2 separate regions of the Homo sapiens genome follow, and region 2 is linked to region 1. The links come from fine-mapping of genetic effects on gene expression. A gene starts in region 1. The other region holds a variant in brackets. All regions are shown on one strand. Distances are between the middles of the regions. Region 1 holds the start of PRSS23 (serine protease 23). Region 2 overlaps ME3 (malic enzyme 3).

Region 1 (11,064 bases):
AAACTTGGGCTTTAGGAAGCCCACTCGAAGCTTCTGGGTTCCTTTCACATAGGTTTTTCCATCGTGTATGCAGTGGGCAGCTGTGAGGACATGCTTCTCTGCCACCAGGGTGCCGGTGCAGCCCGTGGATAACTTCACTGATGTTGAGAAAGGGTAGTTGAGCAGGAAGTCCTTCCCAAAAATGCTGAACCTGCTGTCATAGCCATAAATCTGCCGCTTCCTTCGAGACTTTCCTGAAGACCCTGAGTCTCGGTGTTGGGCCCCATCTCCACTACTGCTGAGGATGTAGATGCCCACCTGCGTCTCTGTGCGGCTGCCATTGGCATAGAGCGTTTCATAAGACAGATATTGCTTGGCCTCTTCGTAAGTGGGCAGTGGAGTTCCCTTATGACACTGGGGTCCACATGAAGAAGATACTTCTAATTTGGCTTCGGCTCCAAAGTCTGGCTTGGCTAAATTGAGGGTAGACTGGGGCAAGACGACAGGGAGGCGGTATGCAGGCCAAGTGGGTTTCCAGGGGGCACTGTAAGGGCTCACTTGCCCAACAGCACAGAGCAGAAAGAAGAGAAGGAAGAGGAGCCCTGGAATCCCTGCCATGCCGAGCACTGTTCTGTAGAAACAAAGACAAGCAGGTCAGGAGGGCAAGGGCTGAACGTTCATTTACTGCAGACAGCAAAGCTCAGCAGCAGGCCTGTCATTGTTTCTGAGTCTTTGAACACTCCTCAGGAATCAGGGTGTGGAGAGGAATCCTTAGATAACGGTCTCACTTTCAACGCAAAGGCTCAACCTTAGGAAAGTTCCTGTGGCTGGGTGCCTGAAGTGAAATTGGGTGTTCCTTCCTTTCTATGTTTAAGATGTCCCTAATGATGGTAGACTGCAGAGTAGCAGGCATAAAGTCATTAGTCCCCTGGCTAACTGACTGACCAGCCCCAATTTCCACGTAATTTTGAGCCCTCTTTGTGCTTGATTCTAAACCTCCTCCTCTTCTACCTTCATGATGTCCCCGCCTTTCCCTCCTCCTTCTCTCATTCTCATTGTAACATGTACTTGGAAAATTTTCAGAGCAACTTGGTCACTCAGAGGGTCAATTTAAATTACATGGCTTACTGAGTGACTGAGACATCAAAGAAGGACAGCTCCACAGTGTCACAATTACCACCACTCCTGTGGTTTTTAAATGATGGTGCACTCGAGAAAGGGTATGAGATTTTTTGTTTTGTTTTGTTTTTTGCTTTGAATTTACAACAACCTTTACTATTATATATATTGAGTTCCAGAGTGGCTAGGCTTCTAATAAAATATTCCTTCTTCCTTTGGATTATGTTGTACACTACCAGGATCTTTGTCAATATCTAAAGCTCTAATATTGCATCAGCTATAACACTATGAACTGTTACCATTGGTTACTTTTTCAGTTGTTTATATCTGTATTACCAACTAAATCTCTTAAATTTGGGCCTGTGCTAGCACTCGACAAAGATTTGTTAAATGGATGCTTGTATTAATGGAAAAGTGAATGAATGTTGCATGCTGACGCTAATGACAATGATGTACATGGATGATGCGGTAGCTCAGAGAAACAGCTTGAGGCCAATTGTGGGAGTAAGAACAAGAGAGGCCTTCTAGGAGAAGTGATGCTTGAGAAATAGTATGCCACAGCCTCGCTCCAACCTCTCAATATAGAGGACCAAATGTATTATTTGGCAAATGCACCCGTTCTTTTCAAATGTACCCACCATTTAGAAGCAATAGGAGTCCTAGTAAAGGTGACACCGTGGAGCTGTCCCTCCTTGATGCTTCGGTCATTCAGTAAGCTATGTAATTTAAATTTACCCTCTAAATGAACAAATTGCCTAGAAATTTTCCAGGCATCACCTGATGTTTCAGATGGGTGCTGAAGTAGAAAAGAAGTCTGATAACATAAGACAGAGAGAAGGGGATACTTAGGGAAGGGAAACAAGAGTCTGTGCAAGGGCACAGCAACATGCAACCATGTGAGTAATTTGGGGAATCACACTTAGCTCAGCAAGGGTGGAGTAGAGGAAGTGGTGGAGGCAGCAGGCAAGAGCTAGATTGTGAAGTGCTATGTGTACTAAACAAAGAAGTTTGGATTTTATACTGCAAGGTATGTTTAAATGCCCAGATCAATCATCCCACAAGAAAAACAACAACGAGGAATACTGAAAGTGCTTTCATAAATGTTTAAGCATCAGTTGGCTCTCAGTGGCTCTGACTCTTCTGGTTCAATAGAAGCTGACTCAGCAGGTAGGGTAACTCATTCACAACCAAGCATCCAAAAACAAGGACCCGGAAGGGGTGGGTCTCAAGAGGCTCTGGGAACACAGCAGAAGTTAGGAAGAAACTGTTTTGTTATTCTCATTCTCTTCCTGTTTGAAAGTACAGATCTACTGGCAACTTTGGGTGCCTTTTGCTCCCTTTTATATAAAAGTAGAAAATCCCAATGATCTGATGTAGTATAGCTGAGCATGCCCATTCTCATTCCCAATATCCACACTGTGTTTCTAACATATGTGTGTGCCCCACCCACCTCTGGGACCTTTTTGCTTGACTTTTTCTCTTGGCTTCCACTTCAGTCAGGGAGAATAGGGATAGGAAAAGAAAGAAATAAGGTCCTGGAAAAGCCAGTTCCTTGGGACTCCCTAATTCCTTGAAATTCTACTTGTCTCCATCTTTCCAAATAGGAAGGGTCCCTGAGCCCTTTTGTAGGAAGGAAATACATTTAATTATTTCTTTAAATCCTTGAAAACATGGGGTGCCCGCATATGTGCACACACGTGTTTGTATGTGCTTGTTGGGAATATTGCCAAGACTAAAGGTTTTAAGTGGACTAGGAAGGGGATGCCAATGCTAGCTGAGTCCTCCTCTCCAATGGAGAACTTGGCAGTGAAATGGGTGTGGTGATGACAACCCTTTAGGAGATCTGTGGGGCATGGTTCTGATTATTCCCACCTACTGGCTAAGGAGTCATCCCTTGGGCTTATCGAGGACTTGAGCAGCCTTTTCTCTATATAAGTTGCTGTCTAGGTGACTAAATGCCCCACTCACACCAGAATCCCTGCCAAATGTGACAGGGACTAGGAGGAGTCATATATCTCCCACATGGCTGTATCTTGGGCTTCAACGCACCATTCTCTCCTCCCTTTGAGTAATGTGGGGAATGTTAATGTGACTTACATTGAGCACATGGTAAGCCAAGTTTTACTTCAGCTTATCTTAAGAAAGAAAACACAGAATGCGGAGGTCCAACCTGCCAAGCGTTCTTGTTTTTAAAATACGATTCTTGGGGGAGAAAGAGTAGGAGATGAGGTAGTATTATAGTATGTATTATCATCAGCTACAGATAATATTTTCAATGTGCATGAAGAACATGGCAGTTACAATATCCTCTTTCATGAGCCACAGCCTTACTCCAACCTCTCAATATAGAGGATCAAATGTATTCTTTGGCAAAATGATGAATGATTATGTCTCAAGAAACTTTGGGATCAGTTATGAATCACAGAATCCTGTTAGAGAATGCTAAAGAGTCTACTGCATGATAGAATATTACTAATTCAGAGTTCTTACAACTTGAATTCTGTTCATTTAGCCAGGAGTGAAGGAGAAGCCAGCCATCTATAAGAAAAAAACAAACTGCTAACCCAACAGGACAGTGTGAAGCTTTAACTTTGAAGAATAAATTTTTCAGAGACTTAATAAGTCCTAATTTCTATTAGTTTGCAACTCTGCTTCCAAGTTCTCCACATTACTAAACCCTATTTACTAACTTGTGTGATAAGACTTTGTTCTGACAGCATTATATATCTTGCTTAAAGCTTCCATGTAACGCTAAAAGTTATAAAATTGCATTTAAAAAAGTTTAATTCAGATTTAGAAATGAATGCAGACTTTTAGAAACTAATGCCCATCAAATTACTTCAAACTGATTAGGCTTAGATATTTTTAAAATATCTAATCAGAAATTAGAAGATACAGCTGTGGGTTCTCAAGCCCTTAAATGGGTTTAAACTGATGTCTGTATTAAAGCTACAAGCTTCTTAAGTTGCTTAGTCCTTTACCAAATGTTTATTTAGGGTGCTTTAGAAATTCTTCTGAATAGCATCCTCAACCAGATGATTGCTTTAGCTGGTCTTTTTAGCTCTGGTCTTTAGGTCCAGGATTCCCTAATATTATAATTTTCCAGAATCACGTAAGTCCAGGTCAGGGACGATGCTGACTATAGTGTCTGTACTATCATTTACTTCTCAGGACCATTGATTCATGGAATTATGGAGGGTGGAGGCAAAGGAGGGGGAAAGGAAAAGGAAAAGGAAAATGAATCATGCTAATTTCTCATCTATCTGGCAGACAAGATTTCCCTGATCAGTCTGCAACAGGACCACTGTTTGAGAGAATGATTTAACTCCTATAGCAAACAAGTGCTGGGAGGGAAAACCTAATCCTTAGGTCATATATTCTCTATTGTACAAATTGTGACTCCAGCAGAAGGCAGCTTTCAAGAACTGAGTGGAGGGATGGCTGTGTGTGTATGCTCTTAAGACAGGCCCCAAAGAAAAGCCTGAGGGGGAAACAACCCTCCTGTCCATTAAGGGTCTTTCCTGAGGCATTCGCAGCCTGCCCTGACTCATCCGCATTAATAAAACAACAAATGATGCAAAACTGTGATGCTTTAAAATTAGGTTGGTGGATTTACATTCATTTCTCAACTCACATGATAATGGAGTAATTCCTTAGAAGACAAATAATTATTGTTACCATCTGTATAAACCCTGGGTAAGCCTGTGCTATACCTGTTTAAGTTTACTTAAACATAAACACTCATCTAAGGTATAAACAGATGTAATGAAAACATTCATAATCCCACACCTGGAAAGGTAACTAATGAGTTACATGATTTTAAATTCTCTCTCACCCTTATAAATGAATCACCTTATCCTTGCAGAGCTGCCTGGAAGACTCACACCTTAAAAATGGAATGAAGATTTTCAAATCTCACCCTTTTACCTAAGTCTGGATGAAGAAAATTTAGGTCTATAACGTTTCATTTCTAGGAATAAACTTTTGCTGAATAAAGATTCCTGGTATACATAAATTATCTTTTAAGGTTTCCAACCAAGTGTTTCCGTGCATCATTTCACCTAACTGGCAGGGAAGAATGGAAAATGAAGGTAAGAAAATATTTTTTCACCATGCTTAGTAATACAGAAACTATTCCTTTTCCAGCTTTGGGTATCTGATTCATAAATAGGTTACACAGTCCACCCTCCATCACTCAATATGAGCCACTGTCTGAAAATATTTATACTTTTTGAGGATGCTGCCACTTCATAGGCCCTTGGTGGTGGGACTTTGCATAATTAACAGATATGCAAACAACAATCTCTTTGGAGACTGGATGCAGTGACTACTGTCTCCTGCACGGCACCTTAGTCTTGAAAACTGCAACAACACAGGTCTCCTCAAGAGGGCCACTGTTTGAGAGAATGATTTAACTCCTATAGCAAACAAGTGCTGGGAGGGAAAACCTAATCCTTAGGTCATGTATTCTCTATTGTACAAATTGTGAATTCCTGCAGCCGCTATAAACAGTAATGACAGAAAGAAACGGCAGGAAAGTTTGCAAAGATACAGGTTTTGGACACCATTTGGAGAGATGACAAAGGGTCTTCCATGGAATCAGTGGTCAGTGATATGGAACGGTGAAATCATGCTAAATCCTAAAGCAAATGCTTAAGAATGAACCAAGCTCTGTGAATACTCTGCAGTCGGGCTTGTTCTCGTTTTCCTGAATCACAGACCCTATTAAGGCAAAACAGACCTAATCACATAATCGTTTAAGAATTACAGTCTTGTACAGGAAACTACAAGGCACTTACAAGTCCAAGCAACCCTAAACACAATCTTGTGGTCAAATGAAGTTTAGCCTCTTCTCTATCGGATTTCAGGTAAACTAAATTGAGCCTGGGACAAACCTGGCAGAACAAGAACAGAGTGCAAAAAAACCTGCTAATATTGAGAACATGAGAAACAAATTCCCTGGAGTCTGTGGGAGTTAGGCATGAATAATGCCTGGTGGATGAAATCCTAAGGGATCTATGAGAAGAGTTACTGGGAGAACCTGAGACTATTAACCATTGCAGACTGGGGACAAAAATGTTCTCAGATGCATTAATGGACACTTATGCTACAACCAGAAAATGCATCCATGTTAACCATCCAGCTGAATAAGTCGTCAGTGTTACAAAAATGAGATCCATATTAGGCACCTTGGAAAAAGGCTTCCTTCCCAGTTCAGGCACAGGAAAGGACAAGTTACCGCTTGACTTTATTTAACTAGGAAAACTGCAAGTGAAACAACCTTTTCGTACGCAGATGGGGTGCAAACACTTTCACAAATAAACATAGTGGCTTCTGGGGGCATTTTCTAAGTTCCTTCTCCCCACTTCACCTCCAATCCACTCCTGACAGACTTCATGGTAGGCACGGTTATAAACCTGTCACAAATACTCGCATGCACAAGTAGGATCTTGAAACAACATGCAATAAATATCCTGATACTACTTTGACATAGGGCTTTTGACCACAGCTGACCTCATCTATAAATTCAATTCTTTCTCACATGACCATGTGATGAGGATTCTGGCACTGGCCTACCTGTTCCTAAGGAGTGCACAGGGAGCCCTCAAATTTAGTTTCAGGAGCTGAGAGAAGCAAGCCCTATTCCAATACCTACACTGAGCTGCTTAATTCTTACTGGTGTCACCCAGTGGGCAGTAAAACAAACAGGATTTTTATCAGCTGCTTTCTCCTGAGGTGCTGGAAAGCAAACCTAATTTGTATTCTGGAGAGGAGTGGTGGTGTTCCTTCATCTGAACAAGTCTTCTCCCGCTCCTTTTAAAACTTTAAAACTTTTATTTAAAAGTTAACTCGTGATGAATGCCTACAGGCAGAAGAACTATTTGCTTACAACAACTGTTGTTAGTTCAGACTGTAGTGTCTAGGGTTAGCACCCCCGGAACGCACACGGACAACCACTCCGGAGAAAAGATTCTATTTCCCAGCCTGTATTTGCTGCACTTTTGCACTTCTCTTGCTTGCTTAGGTGTGTTCACAATCACATGCCCAGGGTTAAAACTTAATATTCAGAACTTGATGGAATCCGGTATATGCAAAACTCAAGGAAAAGAAGTAGTGGTGGTGGTGTGTTGGGGGGGTGCATGGGGGTGTAGCCATCGCCCCCGCCGAAGGACAGCTTGCCGAGAGCCGGCTCTCTCTGCTTCCCAACCAACATCCTGCACCCAAGACAGCAGGATCTTCTTTCCCCATCCGTTTCATGGGTGACACTGCATGAATCCAAATGACCTGCAGCCCCCGCCGTCTCCCCAGAGCTCCTTCAGGCCCCCAGCCCGTGTCCTGGAACCCCGAGGACTGCCCTGGCGAAGTCCTGCGGTGCCTCCGGCAGCCCGCAGTTACCCTACCCCGCGCATACCCGGCCCTTTGTCCCGCTCCTCCCGGCGCCTCGCCTCTCCCGCGCCCGGGCGGATGCCCCAGTCGGTGCCCGCACTCACCCGCGCCGAGCAGCCCGCCCGGGCCGCGGCTCGCTGCGCCGCTCAGACAGGTGTGGGCGCCGGGAGAGAGCGCGCGGCTCCCATGCCTGCCCCGCCGCACAGCCGAGTGCGAGCAAGCTGGCGAGCAGCGCAGGCAGCTGGCGGGTCCGCCCCCCGCGCCACCCGAGGCCCGCCCGCCCCGCCTCCGGCCTCGGGGAAGCCGCGCGGACGCCGCCCGCCCCACTGCACATAAACCGTGCCCCCCTCCCCTCGCCGCTCGCCTGCGGCCGGAGCAGGGTGGAGCAGCCCAGAGGGCCTGAGGCCGAGCGTCCCTGCGCAGGTGGGCCCCGGTGGCGCGGCAGCAGTCGCCAGTCCGGGCCTCTCGGCGCCAGGCAGCACCGGCTCTGGCGGGCTCTCCTGCCCGGGACCCGCGCGCCGTCACCCTTTGAACACCGCGCATCCCCGGGTCTGGCGCGCGGCCTCCTGAGCGAGACTACGGCCTTCGCTGCTGGGAGCACGCTGCCAGCTCGCAAAAAGACCAGGTCCCCTACAAAAGGCGACCCCTCCCCCAACAGCCTAGAACTAGGGACGCGGGCCACACCTGGTGTATGGGGAGCCCTGGGCAAATTTGAAGAATTGGTTCAGAACCTGTGTGCGCCCCACCCCCACGTACACTTTTAGCGCCTTAAGGTGCTGACCGAACTCCTAGTTTCTCCGGTGCCTCCAAAGAACAGAAACCTGTATTCCCATGGCAGGGCCACCAATGCTTTGCATTTCCTTACAGCACTCAGTGCTGTGCGTGGGGCCCAAAGCACCGGGGGTGCTTGGCAGCTTCTGAGCGGCGGTGGCTGGGGAGCCCACTGGCCTCAGTTCTTCATCGGGGCACCAGCTGGTGGAGCCACCTCCTTGTCCAGTGGGCCTACTTCCCTGAATCACTCCAAGCGGTCGTTATCTTGGTGGTGGTGGTTGGGGGCCAGGGTAGGGGGGTGTGCGGGGAGTCCTCTCCTAACCAGGCTGGAGACCTTGCCATTTAAGGTCCTAGTGTTAGAGCCTTCCTATTTAGTATAGATTACTGTGTATTGAGCGTTTTCGGTCAAGAGCTTTACATATAGGCCATTGTGGTGAAGAAGGTGCAGAGATTACACTAATTTTTATAAGGAACAGGAGGTTTGGAGAGGTTTTATGACTTGCCCAAAATCACACAGCTACTGAATGGTAGGACAAGATTTTGCACTGAGCCATGCTTTCTATCAAGCTACTTAGCTTTCCTTTCTCCTATCAAAGTCTACTCTCAGAAAGGGAAGGTCTAAAGTGCTATTTCACACCAAGGTGTTACTGATATGCCTAATACGTTGGTGTTTGCAATTACTTTTACATGAGAAAGCCCTGAACACATTATTGTGTGGTCTTTTCTTTTATTTTATTTTCAAGACAAGTACTCCCTCTGTAGCTCATTCTGGAGTGCAGTAGCAGGATCATAGCTCACTGCAGCGTAGACCTCCTGGGCTCAAGTATCCTCCCTTCTCAGCAAGTATTACACGCGTGAGTCACTGCTCCCGGCCTGGTATTTCTTAAATAGAAAGGAAACTGATATTTTCCACCATTTTAAGGGCAAATTTTTCTTAGCTTAGCTTCAATTGTTTTCTTTTAAAATGTCACATTAATATATAGAGACATAGGCCAGGCTCAGTGGCTCACGCCTGTAATCGTAGCACTTTGGAAGACCAAAGTGGGCAGATTGCTTGAACTTAGGAGTTTGAGACCAGCCTGGGCAACATGGCAAAACCCCATCTCTATAAAAAATACAAAAAACCTAGCCAGTTGTGGTGGCACACGCCTGTGGTCTCAGCTATTTGGGAGGCTGAGGTGGGAGGATGGCTTGAGCCCAGGAGGTGGAGGTTGCAATGAGCTATGATCACCACTGCACTCCAACCTGGGTGACAGACCAAGACCCTGTCTCAAAACACACACAGACACAAAACCAGATATAAACTTATGTTACAGCTTTTGAACAACTCGCAAATAAAACCAAAACAGATTTATAAAAATTTTCTTCCAGAATAATAAAATTGAAATTAGTAACGTTTCCTGGACTACTATCAGCATTGCATGGTACTGACAGCTGAGGCGTCAGTACCTTTGACTTCCCTGTGGCTCTGCCACTCTCATGATGTGTGAGGTGCCCAATGCAGACTCAATTCTCTCACCTCTTTCCTTCGTTCCATCTACCATATCTCCTTTGCCCACACCATATGTCATTGCAATGGGTTTCTCTTGACTCTAATACATTATTTAGGTATTTGTGCTGTTTCTCTCTTATTAGCATAGCAAGTGAAGTGGTAACTCTTGCTGCCAAAGACTAGTACACACAGGTGCTGCAATCAAGAGGCAGTACTTGGCATGAGATGGTCATCCCAATGATCCAGAATGTGTTTATCTTTTATTATAAAAATTTTAAAGATTAAATTGAGGATCTCTAAGTGTCTGTAGCTCCCAATTGAAGAAACACCATTAAAAGGTAAGTATCTTAATAGAGGAACTGGAGGTGCAGCTGGAAGGAAGGGAAGAAGGGAGAGATTTATCAACCATGCTCAAGTTGTATTAGAGTCACTTCAATCCAACAAATATATATTGAGCACATATTACATGGAAAACATTGCGCTAGGCACAAAATTAAAGAGATGCATATAGGAGGACCATACAGCAACATAATTAAGAGTGGCCTGTGGCATCTGACTATGGGGTACCAATCCAAGGTCTGACGCTTACTAGTTGTGTGGCTTTTCACTTAACTTTTCTGTACCTCAGTTTCCTCCTCTGTAAAACCAGGACTTTCTCATAGAGTTCTTTTAAGAATTGAATGAATATACATAGTGTGCTTAGGAGAGTTTCTTACATGGAACAAGCCCTTAATAAATATTAGGTATTGTTATATTTATCACACTTGGCTCTGCTTCGGAGTGTAGTCCTCCAGTACCACCTCAGTCAGCTTTGACATTCATTGCTCATTTTTTTCCTAGTAGTTGCAATGTTTCAAGTTAGAGTCATGGAGAACAAGATGATTATTCCCATCACTCAGAGAGAAAAACTGAGGCACAGAAGGGCCCAAGAGCACAACAGTCCTTCATCTGGTCTCAGGGACTACCGCCCACTATCCAAAGAGCTAATAGGAAGGACTCTTTAACTACAGATGTCCCACGGGGGCTCAGGGTTTGAACATGCACCACAAGCTTTTGTTGTTCCTCAGAGCTACCAAGAGTAAAATGAGAGGCTACTTCCTGGCTGTTAGGTTGTCATCACGATTGCCATAAGGACGATGATAGAACTGTATTTTGACCTCTGAGACAAATGACCAATGTAAACAGCAGATGTCTTCATGCTAAGATTAGAGGTTTGCTTTTCTTTTTGTACTCGTCCCATTTCCCTCCCCAGTGGGGAGGGGGTCGGGGGAACCAAAACCGAAATCCTCACTGCTTCTTAAGAACTCAGTTCAACT
Region 2 (17,119 bases), 140 kb after region 1:
ATTGGTCTTGGGCAGTTCATTTAACCTACATGAGCCTAGGTTTCCTTATCTGTAAAAGAGATATAATTGTCTTAGGAATGTCGTGAGATCTAAAGAGAAAATGCGGGTAGAAAATGGGGGTACGTTAGAACAGTGCCTGGTACCCAGTGGGAGAATAAATAAGGTTATGATTATTATTCTGAGAAAAAGATTAATTTGAGAGCAAGGATGGAAAAGTCTAGACTTATAGAAATTTTCGAGCTTGCAGGAGCATTAGAGATCCTAGTTTAAACCTCTTCTTTTACAAAAAACAAGACAAAGGAAACTTGCCCAAGGTCACCAGCTAGTTAGTTCTGGCTCTGCCACTGGAATCCAGATCTCCAATGCTTTGGTCGAGTTCAACCCACCGCTAGCTCTTTTGTATTTGTTTTTGGGAATAGAGTTTAGTATCTTTGGTTCAGAGGATTGGGTGAGAGAAATAGAAGCAAGGACAGATTTAGTCCTGTCTCCCCCTACCTCCTCAAATTAACTCACATATCTCATTTAACTTATCTGAGGCCCAACTTTCTCCAGCCTAAAATAGATATTATGATAGACCCACCATTTCTATCTCATTTGGTTATTGTGACAATAAAATGAATCACTGAACTTGAAATCATATTTTAAACTGTATAAAGTGCTGAATAACAATTACTGCAAAATAAATTTTTTTTTCATAATTGCTCTGACTCTGGATTGTGAAATTCAGGTGAGGCAGTCTGTATGGAAAAGATGTTTTTGAGAAGTAGGAACAACTATATAATGTGAAGTATTGTGACTGTTTCCTACAGAACTAATAGAAGCGGCTAAGGAAAAAAAAATCAAAATCAACCTCTATCACATTGGAGTCCTGCTCTTTCCAAAAGAAACCTTAAATTGTTTGGACGCTACCACTTTCCAAAGTGTTCAAGGTGTTTGTTATCACCTTGAATTACTTTGCTAGTAAGCGTTAGAAAATACAAACTGGCTTAAGCACACAAAGGCTCCTTTATCTAAAGAATCTAGAGGAAGGGTTGCAGGCACGGCTTGAACCACAAGCCCAGATGGCATTGCTCAAGATGCAGATTCTCTCTGGCTCTCTACTCTGCCTCTCTGCAAGGTCAGTTTCATCCTCAAGCTCTATTCAGTGAAGTCTCTCACTTCGTTATTGCCACAGTCCTCCATCTCCTGTTCTCACACCACATCATCCAGGAATAGAAAGATACTTTTATTCTGGTAGCTCTTGGGGAAGAGAAAATACCCTTTCTCTGACGCCTCAGAAAGCGAATCCTTCTGCCTTATTGACTCTGATTAGATTCTCTCTTCCCATTCCCAAACCAAAACCAATCACCAGTAATTAAAGCCGGTCAGAGCCCACCCCTGGAGTTAAAATGGGGTTTAAGGTAGGGCCACCCACACCATCTGGCTTGGAATAAAGGGAATATAGATCCTCACAGTAAATATGGATAGTGTCATCAGAAGGAGGAGGAATGGATGTAGAAAGCAAAACAATAAATTCCCACTACAGGCTCCAATCATTGTGAAAATAATTGCCTTAGAATTACTGGCATGTTACCAACCAGCATTTATTGCTTTGTTAAGTAGTTAAGAAAATGAAGGAAGATCTTTAAGTCTTTTTTTAAAACCTAGGTTTTGGTCCCCTGAAATCATTCTTGCCCCTGTCGTTTGCCTCTGATGTAAATTTTTTTCTCCCAAGTACTATAAATAAGTTGTTGATATGGTTTGGCTGTGTCCCCATACAAATCTCATCTTGAATTATAATCCCCATAATCCCCACGTGTTGTGGAAGGAACCCTGTGGGAGGTAATTGAATCACGGGGGTGGTTCCCCTGCATGCTGTTCTCGTGATAATGAATGAGTTCTCACGAGACCTGATGGTTTTATAAGTGCCTGACACATTTCCCCTGCTAGCGCTCATTCTCTCTCCTGCCACCCTCTGAGGAGGTGCCTTCGCCATGATTGTAAGTTTCTTGAGACCTTTCCAGCCATGTGGAACTGTGAGTCAATCAAACCTCTTTTCCTTATCAATTACCCAGTCTTGGGTATTTCTTCACAGCCGTGTAAGAACCAGACTAATACAGGTGTTATCCATAAATCTAAGGACCTGACCTTTCCATGATGTTAAACAACATCTTTTATATATTCCTGAAGTCAGCTGATGCTTGTCTGGGATAAGAAGGGTATCTAGAAGGAGGCTGACAGCCTGTTGGCATCCCCTATTCACTCACCCTTGGGGACAGAAGGGGAGCAACAGAGGGAGTGCTTCCTGGGAGTTACTGTGAGTGCCCTTCTCTTCCCACTGGAGTGCCACCCTCTGGCTGTTCTGTTGTCCTCCAGTGCTCAGAGAGTCTCCATGGAAGGCTTGAGCCTTGGTACTTTGCATCAGCCAGGTGGGAAGATAGTGCTGAGGTTAAATAGAACAATGAGGTTATTACTGAGGAAGCAAAATGGAAGTGCAGTTTTGAAAGAGTCTTCAATGCTGTGCTTAGTGTTCATGTCTGTGGGTGGATTTTTTTCTGTTAGAAGGAGAGCCCTTCCAGGCCAGGTAATGAGATTCGTCCACCTGTGTTTGGCATGGGGTAGTGCCTGAAAGATCTAGCTTAACATTAAATTCTTGGAATGTGTTCACTAGATTTGCAGCTCATTTCGACAGATTAGGAGTGGCATTTAAGTCGCAGCTGTATGACAGAGGGTGGTCAGGAGGTGGAATTATCTGAGAGAAGAGGTGCCGACCAGGGCAAGCATTGCTGCTATTGTGCATTCACTGGGTTCTGGTACCAGCTCCATCATGCTCTGGCCATGTGATCTGTGATGAATCTCATAAGCTCCTCTGCCCGTGTTACACTACTGCTTTGAGGATCATAGGAGACAGCCCCCATGTGGTAAATATTAGGTGATAATGAGGATGATTTCCATAATTGGGGTAGGAAGGCCCCTCAGAGATGATCTAGTCTGGAATTGTTCAGACTATGAGTTACAAACTATGAGACATGAAATTAGCTTAGTGGATCTACCAGCAATTTTTTTAAAGAAATGTATTAGAATGAAATAGAAAAATAGCAAATGCATTGAAGTTAATAAAGATGGATATTTTATCAGGTCAGCATGTAAAATGACTATTTTTACTGTGGATTGTAGTAACAAAAAGTTTTTGAAAATAATTGTTCTCATCCAACATTTTCATTTTCCAAAGAAAAGAGAAGCCAAGGAAGAAGCCAAGCAACTCCACAGAGATTATCATTGGTCATAGAAGTGGACAGAGGCAGCCTGCCTGCTGTATTTGAGTCTACTGAATAATGATGGCAATTCACAACTGCATAGACTGATTTAGGCATATTCCTGATGGTGACAGAATTGATACTAGATGATTCCAAGCTCCCTCCAGGAGTCTAGATTTTCTAAATGATGCAAATTAACTACGCATGAGCTTCTATTTTTCTTTTTAAAACTAATATTCTGCTTTTCTTCTAAAATTTATGTAATGACCTCTTCTATTGTCCATACGGATTTGGCAACAGAGTAAATCTTTGGTTATATGACCCCTCTTTTACTCACATTAAATAGGCAACTATCAGCCCCACTTCACAGGGTTACCTTCATAGGAAGATGCCATCCCCATTCTATAACTGTAGCAACATGTTGATGGGCCATCAACATATTTCTGACCTCCATTTACCTATAGTGTCTTTTAGGAAGAGCCGTCCTATTCCCCACTTGCCAAACTAGATCTGAGTCCCCTCCTATTTGTCTTATCACACTGTTGCCTTCTGGCACTGAGCACACTATTACAATGGCTGGTTGGTTTGCCTTCCACACTAGACCATGGGGACAGACACTCTGTCTTGTCACATGGCATTAGCTCTGTCTGACTTGAAATGCTCAATAAATATTTGTTCTTTAAATGATTTCAATCATGTCATGGCCCCTTTCCTCTCAACTTCATTAATCTGAATGTCACTACTTCACAGCCCAATGCTCTTGCTGCCTAAATAAATGCCTACATATGGCCCATTTGAAGGAAATGCACCTGCTTGACTCTCATCTTCCCAGACTTCAGGGCATTTAACTGAAGGAGTGCATTATTTCCCAGAACACACCAATCTTCCCCCTTTGATCCGTGTGTGCCAGCAGTGATTTTTTTTGCCACGAAATTCCACTGATCCTTCACCTGCTTCTCTGTAGTTTTTTCATCTCTTGAGCTTGATAGTCAGGGAAAGAATGAATGGAAAGTGTGCTTAGTCAAGTCACTGTGATTATGGACCAGGACATTTCACGTAGTGGGGCCTCAGAGACTGCAAGGCACCACGGGTGATGGCCTTCCCAGGTGGACTTGATACATTTAGAGCAGTAAACCTGCAAAGGCTTGAAGGACAGTGCTGCAGTGTTGGCTGTACATCTGAGACTGCACAGATTTCAGCTGAATCCCTTCTGTATTCAATGATGATTTATTAGACTTCCACACAGCTAGGATTTGCCTTTGAATAAAGTATATGATTTTGTTCTCTGCTAGCTTAGAACTTGATCTTGTCTTCTTTGGATGAGGGGAGGTTGTTACTATGGATTTGGCTCATCAATCAGGAGATGTTAAGTGTGTTGTATGGATAATTAGAAGTTTATTGGTGATGCTGGAAGGCAGATTACATAATATATCTTCTCGAGATCTCTGCTTCAGGTATGATGTAAAATTGTGCCTCCTAGTTGAGAGAAACAGTGGATTATTGTGTAAATATTAGCTCCATAAGTGGCAATTTACTCTAGATTTGAGCTTGTACAAAGACTCAGTTGCATTGAAGCTCAAATACTGTTCAGATATGTTGGAACAAACTAGCAGAGGCAGGTTGAAATCAAACTTTTCTCTGTTGAATACTGTCCTAGCTTCACAGGATTACTAAGTATTGGTATTGGGGCTTTGTTTTTAGAACAGCTCAGAGAATGTTTATTAGTTGCTACAGGTTAGGCAATGACAACAATGTGAACCCCAGATACAGAGGCTTAAATAAGATAGAAGTATATTTCTCTGTTAGGAACAAGTCTGGGCAAGCAATCATGAGTTGATGTGTGGTTTGACTTTGTTTCTCTGCCATCCAGTATGCATTTTACATTTCAAAGTCCAGGATGACAGGTCTTACCTCTGCTGTGAATTCCACGCAGAAGCCAATTGGGAAGGGGAAATCCCTTTTAAGGGCACAACTTGGAAGTTATAAATATCACTTCTACTTACATTCAGTTGGCCAGAAGTTGGTCATATGCTACATTTAGCTGCAAGAGAACATGGAAAATGTAATCTTTGGCTGGGCACCCATGTATTCAGCTAAAAATTCTACATTATTAAATAAAGGGAAATTGGAAAATGAAGATACTACCACAAAATGTTGATATGAAGCTTTCATTGTTTCACTCTGTCAATTTTACCCCAGCCTTTAAAAATTTATCTGTTTCTCTATATCCCCACTACCATCAGCCTTTTTCACTCCTTTGCCATCTCATATCTAGATTATGCAAGAACCTCTGAATTAATCTCCCAATTTCCAGTCCTCTTCAGTCTTCAGTCTTCTCCTCTAGATGCTTAGATCTTGGTCCTATCCTTGACCACTCTCTTTCTTTCAGACCCCTTATGGAATCCACCAGAAAATCCTGTTACCCTGTCTTCAGACTAAATCTGGAATCCAGCCCCTGTTCACCATGGGTCACCACTGATTGAAGCCTCCAGCATCTCTCTGCTTAATGCCTGCAGCAGCCTCCTGGCTGGTCTCCTCTTTCCCTTTAGCGCCTCTCATTTATTCTCAACACAATGGCCAGGGTGATTTTTTTTTAAAACTAAGTTTCAACATGTCACTCTTTGCTTAAAACCTGGCCACATCCAAGTCTTCATGATGCCTTTCATATTGATGCTCTCTAACTTCATCTCTTGCTACTCTTCTCTGCCTCACTCACTGCCCCAACCCCATTGGCCTCCTCAGTCAGTTGTGCTCCTACCCAGACTTTGCACTGACTGATCCTCCTTCCTAGAGCACACCAC[C/T]CCTCCATAGCCACATAGTTAACTCCCTCCCTTTTTCAAAGTTTCTCACTTTCTCAATGATAGCTGCTTTGACCGACACATGTGAATTCATGAACAGTCCTTTCAACCTTCTTGCTCCCCCTACACATCCTGCTTTCCCCCATAGTATTTGACACTTCCTCATATGCTATCTAACTGCTTACTTAGTATGTCTATTGCTTATTGTCTGTTCACTTAAGATCCACTTAGGCAGGGACTTTGTCTGTTTGTTCATTGATGTATCACAGGTACTTAGTTGGTGCTCGTAAGCAGTTAGTGAATGAGCGAGTCATTCAAAGAGACATCTGCTAAGGCTCCCTCCTCTCATCTCTTCCCTTCACCCTGCCTTTTGCCAAGGCCCCTTCTTTCACCCTGGTGACTCTCATCGCCCAGTGTCCTCATCTGTGGTGTTGACATGCCCATCTGGAGTGTGTATACATCTTACATCAGCCCTTTGGGTGCCCAGAGGCCCACTACAGAATGAAGTGCTGGAGGAGCACAGCACAGAGATATTAACTGTTTATCTCCAGCTTTAAGCAGAGCCCAGGGAAGAAGGAGGTCCTATTCAGAAGACACAGGTGGTGCCTTGGAACCAGAGGTGGACAAGGACAATTCTTGAGCCCACGGAAAACACAAAAGGAGATGTTTAGGGAATAGACCAGAGTTAGGAGACCCCAGCATCTGTCAGCATCTCCACTGGAACTCCCACCCTCCACTCTGAGTCCTTGGAGACTTCATCCCTGCTCGGAATTTCTGTATTTCCACTGTTCTGTAGGACCCCTATAAAAGTCAAAGGAAACCACTCAGAGCCTCTGCTCCCAAGGGTCTGAAAATCAAGGAAATATGGAATGGGGTGCCCGGAACACAAGAGGGAGATTTGCTGTTCCTGGAACCTGAAGATGATACTCAGAAAGTGTTTTCTCATAGGCATGTTGTAAATAATTGAATCATCCTCCAAGGAAAGTATATCGTGTTAAGTAAGCATTTGTGTAATCATTATTAAGACTTTAGAAACATTGGCTTATGTTAATGAATGCTTAATTCAAATTGCAAAATACTAAGTAGACTGTATACTCATGAATGTTATTGTAAAAAGATATAAATATTAAAGGGCTTGGAAGTAAATGTGTGAATATGATTGTGTTATGTCAGTGAGATTATGGGAGATTTATTTCCTCTTTATGTACTTTTCCTTTAATGTTCCATTTTCTTTTCAATTTTAGGTTACAGTTTCTGTTGGGAATTGTTTCTAGAGCCAAGTAAATAATACTCAGACCAACTTTGGGAAGCTGGCCCATCTGTAACATATAGGTGGAGATCCCTCTGAAGTCGTCTCCTTTCAAGCTTTTATTATTAGTTATCTTCTAGAGGCAATAAAGTAATAACAAAATGTTAACAGAGGAGCCTGCTGCCTGTTCTAAAAGCAGTTGTAAACAGCAATATCTAGATTACGTCAGCAGCAACGCTGAAGGGTAAATCCCATACAGAAATATGTGTTTTGCCCAGACCTGGGCCAACTGACATCTTAAGTCAGTCTAAGTCTGGGCTCCATATATGGCGTTTTTTTGGACACTTTTTCAGGCTCATCTCTAGTCTCCCTGTTTCCAATTTATGTTGGCCTTTGTGGACCCTGAGGTTTATGGCCTTATTTTACTTCACATTTTTGTCATTTCTACCAAAGGTTTCTTTTTATCATCTACTCTTTTCTTTCCAAATGTCAGTATTATAGTGAGAGGGGGGAAAAAAGGCCTTTTGATTTCTATGGCCATTGCAAAAGGATCACTAATGTGCAGCACTTTTGTTTGCAAAGACATGGATTACAGTCAGTTTCAAAAACCTTCACTTTGATGTGTAGAAAGTATATCGGGAAATCCTTTGGGGGTGGTATCCGACTGCCTCTCTGATGCAGAGCACAAAAGATGCTCTATGATTGTGAGGAAAATGTGATGGATATCCTACAGTTGGGTGTGCCGAGGTCAGTGGTTAAAAGCATGCATTCATTTTGTATCTGAAAGGTTGCCATGCAGCCCAGTTGAAACACAATTCCTACCAAAAGGACACAGTAAAGAGTAAAATGCACCTGTCATTTGAGGAGAGGGATTTTTGATAGAAAGATCCACAGCTTTTGAGAAACTTGAATGAGAGAAAGCCAAAGCTGCATTGGCTTTCTAAAAGTGATTCTTGAAAACTAGAGGTATTTTAGAAGATACAGTTGAATGATCAGCAACTTGAGATTATTATATTTTAAAAGCATTTTGTCTTGATTCTGTGTCATCTTTTGGTAGTGAGCTACATGAAGCCCATTACTTAATTGGTCATGAAACATCTTCCTCTGTAGTGTGGAATTCTGGAGAAGGCAGTCTCTGTTGATCACTTTGTTTTGTTCTATTTTGCTTTGCTCTTTCAGAAAACTGAAGGAGGGAGTCTACATCTCTATAAATTGGCATAGCTTCTGAGTTATGAGGCTGCCCAGGGACTTCCCAACAGGAGAGGGATTGCCAAGTGTACAGTGGAGCTAGGGTTCCAGTCAAAATAGACATTCTGCATTCTTCTTTCTCTGGTTTTGAAAGAGGTGTTGAAGATTCCAATGCAGATTCCTATTATACTGAGTTTTCTTTGGTAACGTTATGGAGGGAAGTCAAGTAATAACAGCTAATGTTTTTAGGACATGCAGTGTGCTAGGAATTGTTCTAAGTAGTTTATATATGTTAACCCATTTAATACAATACCACAACATTTTGAGGTAGACACTGTTATTATATTATTCCTGTTTTAAATTTTATTTTCATTTTTATTTTTTTACAGACAGGGTCTTACTCTGTCACCCAGGCTGGAGTACAGTGGCACAATCATAGTTCACTGCAGCCTTGAACTCTTGGGCTCAAGTGATCCTCCCACCTCAGCCACCCAAGTAGCTGGGACTACAGGGGCAAGCTACCTTGCACAGCTAAATAAAAAAAAAATTAATTTTCTGTAGAGACAAGGTCTTGTTATGTTGGCCAGGCTGGTCTTGAACTCCTGGCCTCAAGTGATCCTCCCACCTCAGCCTCTCAGACACTGTTATTGTTCTTATATGACAGATGAGAAAACCGAGGCATAAGGTTAGCTAACTTGCCCTAGGTCATACAACTCATAGTGGCAGAACTGAGTCTTGAACTCAGGCCACCTGATTTTAGGGCTTATCCCCTACGCTGTACTAACACTTCTAGTGTGCAGGTTCCCTCTTATCTGGGACTAGTGCATGAAGTCTGATGTGCTGTGGCCTTTCCAGAGAAATAACTAGTGTATTCCCTGTTCCCTGCTGTGGACTTCTGATTAGCTTTTTTCACTTCCACTGGCTCTGTTAGAATTGTAGATTCTTAGAGCTGGAGAGAACTTTAAAGATCACTGGATGCCTTTTTCTCTCCCTTTAACTTTGTGTAATTCTCCCAAGACTCATTTGTTTGTTTAATTTATTCAATAGTCATTTTCTGAGTTCCTGTTTAGTTTTAGGCAGTGGAGACACCGTGGTCAATACAATACAATACAATACAATACAATACAATACAATACAATACAATACAATACTCTGCCTTGAAGGAGCTTATAGCGTAAGAGGGGTGCAAGTGAGGACCAGTTAGTAAGGGGCAATTCTAATTCAGTGGTTAGATGTAACGAGAGGTGCATTCATACAAGTGCTATGGAAGCACAGAAGAGAGGTGCAGAAACACTTCCAATGGCAGTGTTGGCAAGGCTGACACCTGTGGAAGTGTCAGAGGTGGTAGATGAAGATGGTGGAGGAGAAGCTATTTAGGTCAGATAATGAGACAGAATGGCATTGTCTCTGAGTATAGTCATCCATTGCTTTTGTAGCTCTATGTGCAGAAATTGAGCAATAGACATGTACCCTGTAAGAGACCTCATCTTCAGAAAGCTAAATAATATCATGACATTTCTAATTCTACAAATAGAATTAAAGACATCTCTCCAGTACTTTGACATGCTCTTTGGTTTTGTTCTTTCCCTCACTTTTGTGTTGCACAATGCCTGGGTGCCCCATCCATACCGGATCCACTTAAAAACTTTGGCATGCTTCAGGGTTCAGCATCTCCAGGGTCACCTCTGCTATGATGCCCTCCTCGATAACGCCACATGGCAGTAATTCATTCATCCTCTACATTTCTTTGGCATGTAGCATTTGTAGTAGTCATGGCTCTTTCCACATTTGGCCTTAGTGTACATTTATTAGCACATGTATCGCCATCATGTGCATGTGTTTTCTTCAGATCCAGGAGACTGTCGTGGGCATCTCATAGCCAGCATGCAATGCCTTCCTGATAGTGTAACCTCAGTAAAAATTAGTTACATGAATTGCCTCTACATTCCCTTCTCCTTGATGTATCAGAAACTATATGGTGAAGACTGATGATACATCAGCCCCATCTGTCAGCTCTTTTGAAAAGATGGTGAAAATCTTGACCTGACCCTCTTTTAGATCACTCCATGGGGACTGGAGAATTTTGAAAGCCACAAAAAATCTTTTATTTCATCATACAAATTTTGGAAATACATTTCTTTAAGAGAGTTTTCTGCTCTGATGTTGTGCCAGGTGCACTTCCTCTAAAGAATAGCATCTTTTGTGATGAGATTATCAATTCTCATCCGTGGGCTGCTTTAAAGACATTAAATTTAGACCTGTTCTAACTTGGAACAGGTTAGAGGATTTGGGGAGTAAAGGAAAGTAGTCAGCTAGAATCAATTTTGTGTGACACCCTCAAGGGGCATAGCCTGTGACCAGGTATTAGGCAGCAGAGCTCAAAGGCTAAAAATCGAGGGAATTACACTCAGAACAATCTAAGATTCCAATCCCATCTCTGCCATTCTCTAGATATGGGATATTTCTCTGAACCTCCATTTCCTTGTCTGTGAAAGGGATGACAATAAAACATATCTACTTGACAAGTTGCTATAATGATTAAGTGAAGTAATGTATGTAAAGCAGATGGTAAGTGTCCAATTAGTTCTTGATTAATGCACATCCTAAAGCTTCTGTTGCATTCCTAACACATTGTGAAGCCCTGTGTGGGCTGCAGAAGTCACAGATGTGATAGAGTTTACATCTGGTACATGCCCCCTGAAAGCATCCAGTCCGGAAGGAGAGGGGAAGACTGAAGGATCAAACTCACTTTCGATGGCCATGGGCTACATCTAATTTTGGCAGACTTGACAGGAGAAGAGTGAGTCAGAGAACAGGCAGACTGGGTGGAGACTTTAGTGATGATTTCCCAGTACTGGATAGAGCTTAAGCCTGGATAATCTAGACATTTGCCTGAGAGAAGCTTAAATTAAAATGTCACTAGCAGCAGAAATTCAAGTGTCATTTAAAGAGCTAGTAGTTCTGGAAGTTGAAGCTGGTGTTGAAGATAGTGGATATCATCAGTAGTCTCAGGATTTTGTCCCAACATTTTGGTATATTCTAACCAAGGTTTAAAAACTAACTTAAAAAAAAAATAGATCCAGCCAAATTTGGATCTATCTATCGATTGATTGGTCCATCCATCCATTCAGCTATCATCTATGTCTCTATCTACCTTCCTGCCTGTCACCATTATAACGCTCCCAGTCTCATGAGATTCTGATAGTGAGACAGGAAGTTAAGAGAATGTCTACCATGGGAATTTAGGATAAAAGTTAAAATGTTGTTTCATAGCCAGCTAAATAGGGTATGGCTGGGCCAACTTCACCCAGCTAGCAGTTAGACGGGGCAGGAAGTTTTAAGATAGTCTCCATCCACACTGCCACGGGTAGTTAATAAATACTTGCATACACAATGTGAACCAAACTTTTCTCCTCTGTTGGAACACAAGATGATCATCCCCCCAGAAGACAAAGAGGTCATCTTGACTAGCATTTAGGCTTTGGGCAGATAATATCCTAGCATTTTATCACTAGTCTACATAAGTTTTCAGAGGCCCTGAGGGGTTGATGTCCTGTCCAGGAAGTAAGTGGTGAAGGGGAACTCCCTCCTTGAGTGATGTCTGTCTCTTCTACCTACCATCTTTGAAAGGTAGCTCTTTGCCTGCCATCTTGAAATAGGGTCTTGAATCAGCCTCAGTCAACTTAGGCAGAGGGCTTTTGAGTCTCTCCATAAAAAAACTTGAATATTAAAACAATGCAGATGAAGTGCTTTAATATTAAACAACGTATGTTGCAAACCTAAGCATCTGTTGAGGTAGCTCCTGCTGTCGCTCCTGTGTGTCCGTTTCTGATGACTGTGTGAGTTCCCAGTTGCCACCCTCCTTTTGAATTTTATGTATTTCTTTGCAGTAACATGATCTTGAAAACATTACACAAACTGACAGAAAGCTTAGCCTTCATGTCATACTCTCCTTTCTTATCTCTTTTATTTTTGGTCTATTCTAGGCAGTAGATTTTTTTTGACTGGTAAAATCACTTGAGGTCACAAGGACAGTGAATAGCAATGCAGTTGCTGTTGATGAAACAGGAGTAGAGATGGTTGGTGTAGAGAAAAACCTATTAATAGCCATTTTTAGAAACAGACTTTTAAATCCACCCATCAGAGCTGAAACATTTCCCCTGTTCTCACACTCCCAGAGCTGGCAGCAGCTTCTCCTCATGTCTGAGGAGCCTAGCCATGCTTGTGGGAGATGATGGCATGGGTGCCAGTGGGGCAGCTGGCCAGGTGGTGCCAGGAGCGAGGGCCTGCCAAGCAGAGGGGCAGTCCTGCCTCTGGTAACTGGCTTTGACTGCAGGACTGGAGGGTCCAAGCATCCTTAGCCACTCTCTTGTTAACTGAGCTATTCAATGTTCTGTGATCTACTACTGTCAACTGGACAGAGTCAGCTGCCTCCTCTGGGGCTCAAAATTACTGGCACAATCACATTAAAAATAATAACAATCACATATAATGCCTACTGTGCCAGTTACTCTTACAGGTGTGTTACATATATTATTTGCAAGCAGAGGAAAAATTGCAGGCTGAGTGCAGTGGCTCACACCTATAATCCCAGCATTTTGAGAGGCTGAGGCAGGTGGATCACTTGACCTCAGGAGTTCGAGACCAGGCTGGACAACATGATGAAACCCCATCTCTACTAAAAATACAAAAATTAGCTGGGCTGGTGACGCATGCCTGTAATCCTATCTACTCGGGTGGCTGAGGCAGGACAAATGCTTGAACTCGGGAGGTGGAGGTTGCAGTACGCCAAGATCGCGCCCTGCACTCCAGCCTGGGCGACAGCATGAGATTGTCTCAAAAAAAAAAAATTGTGAAGAAGGTAAACTTTGCCTACATCTCTCCCATCTCCTGTTTTCATGGCCTCTTCTTCCTTAAAGACCGCCTCATATATGAGGCATATCCTGAGGTTCTTCATGGTACCCCTAAGATGCTGAGGGTTGCCAACCTAAGAAGAGCTATTCATCTTACATTATCCTGCTTCCTGTCCTAGAACTCATGTCTTCTTTACTTGCATCCCTGAATCCCTGTCCATCCATCCATCCACCCAATGTTTACTGAGCACCTGCTATCTTCTAGGCACTGTGAGGTATTGAGAATAACATCATAAGCTTGCCAGCTATGATTCTTCTTATTGCTGAGTGTACAATCTAGTGAGAAAGACAGATAATAAATAAGTGAACGAACAACATTATAAAGATGGTTATTATTTTTTTTCTAAAGGAAAATGATACCTCAGGAGTCTTTCTTCTAGTTTGGTCACAAGTTAATACCATAGCAAGCATGTAATTGTGAACTGCAGGGCTGCATTATCTTTTTTTTATTATTATACTGAAGTTCTGGGATACACGTGCAGAATGTGCAGGTTTATTACATAGGTATAAACGTGCCATGGTGGTTTCCTGCACCCATCAACCCATCATTTACATTAGCTATTTCTGGTAATGCTATCCCTCCCCTTGCCCCACACCCCCTCCTACAGGCCCCAATGTATGATGTTCCCCTCCTTGTGTCCATGTGTTCTCATTGTTCAACTCCCACTTATGAATGAGAACATGTGGTGTTTGGTTTGCTGTTCCTGTGTTAGTCTGCTGAGAATGATGGCTTCCAGCTTCATCCATGTCCCTGCAAAGGACACAATCTCATTCTTTTTTATGGCTGCATAGTATTCCATGGTGTATATGTGCCACATTTTCTGTATCCAGCCTATCATTGATGGGCATTTGGGTTGGTTCCAAGTCTTTGCTATTGTGAATAGTGCTGCAATAAACATACATGTGCATGTGTCTTTATAGCAGAATGATTTATAATCCTTTGAGTATATACCCAGTAATGGGATTGCTGGGTCAAACGGTATTTCTAATTCTAGATCCTTGAGGAATCCCCACACTGTCTTCCACAATGGTTAAATTAATTTGCACTCCCACCAACAGTATAAAAGCGTTCCTATTTCTCCACATCCTCTCCAGCATCTGTTGTTTCCTGACTTTCTAATGATTGCCATTCTAACTGGCATGGGATGATACCTCATTGTAGTTTTACTTTGCATTGCTCTAATGACCACTGATCATGAGCTTTTTTTTTTTCATATGTTTATCAGCCGCATTAGTGTCTTCTTTAGAGAAGTGTCTGTTCATATCCTTTACCCACTTTTTGATGGGGTTATTTGCTTTTCTCTTGTAAATTTTTTTTATTATTATACTTTAAGTTTTAGGGTACATGTGCACAACGTGCAGGTTTGTTACATATGTATACATGTGCCATGTTGGTGTGCTGCACCCATTAACTCATCATTTAACATTAGGTATATCTCCTAATGCTATCTCTCCCCCCTCCCCCCACCCCAAAACAGGCCTTGGTGTGTGATGTTCCCCTTCCTGTGTCCATGTGTTCTCATTGTTCAGTTCCCACCTTTGAGTGAGAACATGAAGTGTTTGGTTTTTTGTCCTTGCGATGGTTTGCTGAGAATGATGGTTCCCAGTTTGATCTATGTCCCTATAAAGGACATGAACTCATCATTTTTATGGCTGCATAGCATTCCATGGTGTATATGTGCCACATTTTCTTAATCCAGTCTATCATTGTTGGACATTTGGGTTGGTTCCAAGTCTTTGCTATTGTGAATAGTGCCACAATAAACATATGTGTGCATGTGTCTTTATAGCAGCATGATTTATAATCTTTTGGGTATATATCCAGTAATGGGATGGCTGGGTCAAATGGTATTTCTAGTTCTAGATCCCTGAGGAATCGCCACACTGACTTCCACAATGGTTGAACTAGTTTACAGTCCCACCAACAGTGTAAAAGTGTTCCTATTTCTCCACATCCTCTCCAGCACCTGTTGTTTCCTGACTTTTGAATGATTGCCATTCTAACTGGTGTGAGATGGTATCTCATTGTGGTTTTGATTTGCATTTCTCTGATGGCCAGTGATGGTGAGCATTTTTTCATGTGTCTTTTGGCTGCATAAATGTCTTCTTTTGAGAAGTGTCTGTTCATGTCCTTGGCCCACTTTTTGATGGGGTTGTTTGTTTTTTTCTTGTAAATTTGTTTGAGTTCTTTGTAGATTCCGGATATTAGCCCTTTGTCAGATGAGTAGGTTGCGAAAATTTTCTCCCATTTTGTAGGTTGCCTGTTCACTCTGATGGTAGTTTCTTTTGCTGTGCAGAAGCTCTTTAGTTTAATTAGATTCCATTTGTCAATTTTGTCTTTTGTTGCCACTGCTTTTGGTGTTTTAGACATGAAGTCCTTGCCCATGCCTATGTCCTGAATGGTAATGCCTAGGTTTTCTTCTAGGGTTTTTATGGTTTTAGGTCTAACGTTTAAGTCTTTAATCCATCTTGAATTAATTTTTGTATAAGGTATAAGGAAGCGATCCAGTTTCAGCTTTCTACATATGGCTAGCCAGTTTTCCCAGCACCATTTATTAAATAGGGAATCCTTTCCCCATTGCTTGTTTTTCTCAGGTTTGTCAAAGATCAGATAATTGTAGATACGTGGCGTTATTTCTGAGGGCTCTGTTCTGTTCCATTGATCTATATCTCTCTTTTGGTACCAGTACCATGCTGTTTTGGTTACTGTAGCCTTGTAGTATAGTTTGAAGTCAGGTAGCGTGATGCCTCCAGCTTTGTTCTTTTGGCTTAGGATTGACTTGGCGATGCAGGCTCTTTTTTGGTTCCATATGAACTTTAAAGTAGTTTTTTCCAATTCTGTGAAGAAAGTCATTGGTAGCTTGATGGGGATAGCATTGAATCTATAAATTACCTTGGACAGTGTGGCCATTTTCACGATATTGATTCTTCCTGCCCATGAGCATAGAATCTTCTTCCATTTGTTTGTATCCTCTTTTATTTCATTGAGCAGTGGTTTGTAGTTCTCCTTGAAGAGGTCTTTCACATCCCTTGTAAGTTGGATTCCTAGGTATTTTATTCTCTTTGAAGCAATTGTGAATGGGAGTTCACTCATGATTTGGCTCTCTGTTTGTCTGTTATTTGTGTATAAGACTGCTTGTGATTTTTGCACATTGATTTTGTATCCTGAGACTTTGCTGAAGTTGCTTATCAGCTTAAGGAGATTTTGGGCTGAGACGATGGGGTTTTCTAGATATACAATCATGTCATCTGCAAACAGGGACAATTTGACTTCCTCTTTTCCTAATTGAATGACCTTTATTTCCTTCTCCTGCCTGATTGCCCTGGCCAGAACTTCCAACACTATGTTGAATAGGAGTGGTGAGAGAGGGCATCCCTGTCTTGTGCCAGTTTTCAAAGGGGATGCTTCCAGTTTTTGCCCATTCAGTATGATATTGGCTGTGGGTTTGTCATAGACAGCTCTTATTATTTTGAGATATGTCCCATCAATACCTAATTCATTGAGAGTTTTCAGCATGAAGGGTTGTTGAATTTTGTCAAAGGCCTTTTCTGCATCTATTGAGATAATCATGTGGTTTTTGTCACTGGTTCTGTTTATATGCTGGATTACGTTTATTGATTTGCATATGTTGAACCAGGCTTGCATCCCAGGGGTGAAGCCCACTTGATCATGGTGGATAAGCTTTTTGATGTGCTGCTGGATTCAGTTTGCCAGTATTTTATTGAGGATTTTTG

Evidence for each region. PIP is the estimated chance that this variant, and not a neighbour inherited with it, causes the effect.
Region 2: its variant is the best candidate, but not a certain one, in a credible set for the expression of PRSS23 in whole blood (INTERVAL, PIP 0.62).

Annotation. Positions count from the first base shown.
Region 1 is chr11:86,797,177-86,808,240 of GRCh38, reverse strand. PRSS23 (serine protease 23) reads right to left here and starts at 7,699. Exons shown (of 2, transcript NM_007173.6): 1 at 7,590-7,699; 2 at 1-610. The coding sequence starts at 597.
Region 2 is chr11:86,654,335-86,671,453 of GRCh38, reverse strand. All of the region lies in intron 2 of ME3 (malic enzyme 3), which reads left to right. Among named protein-coding and RNA genes, the nearest start is that of ME3, 9.7 kb to the left of the region's middle. The variant C/T (reference allele first, on the strand shown) is at 6,038.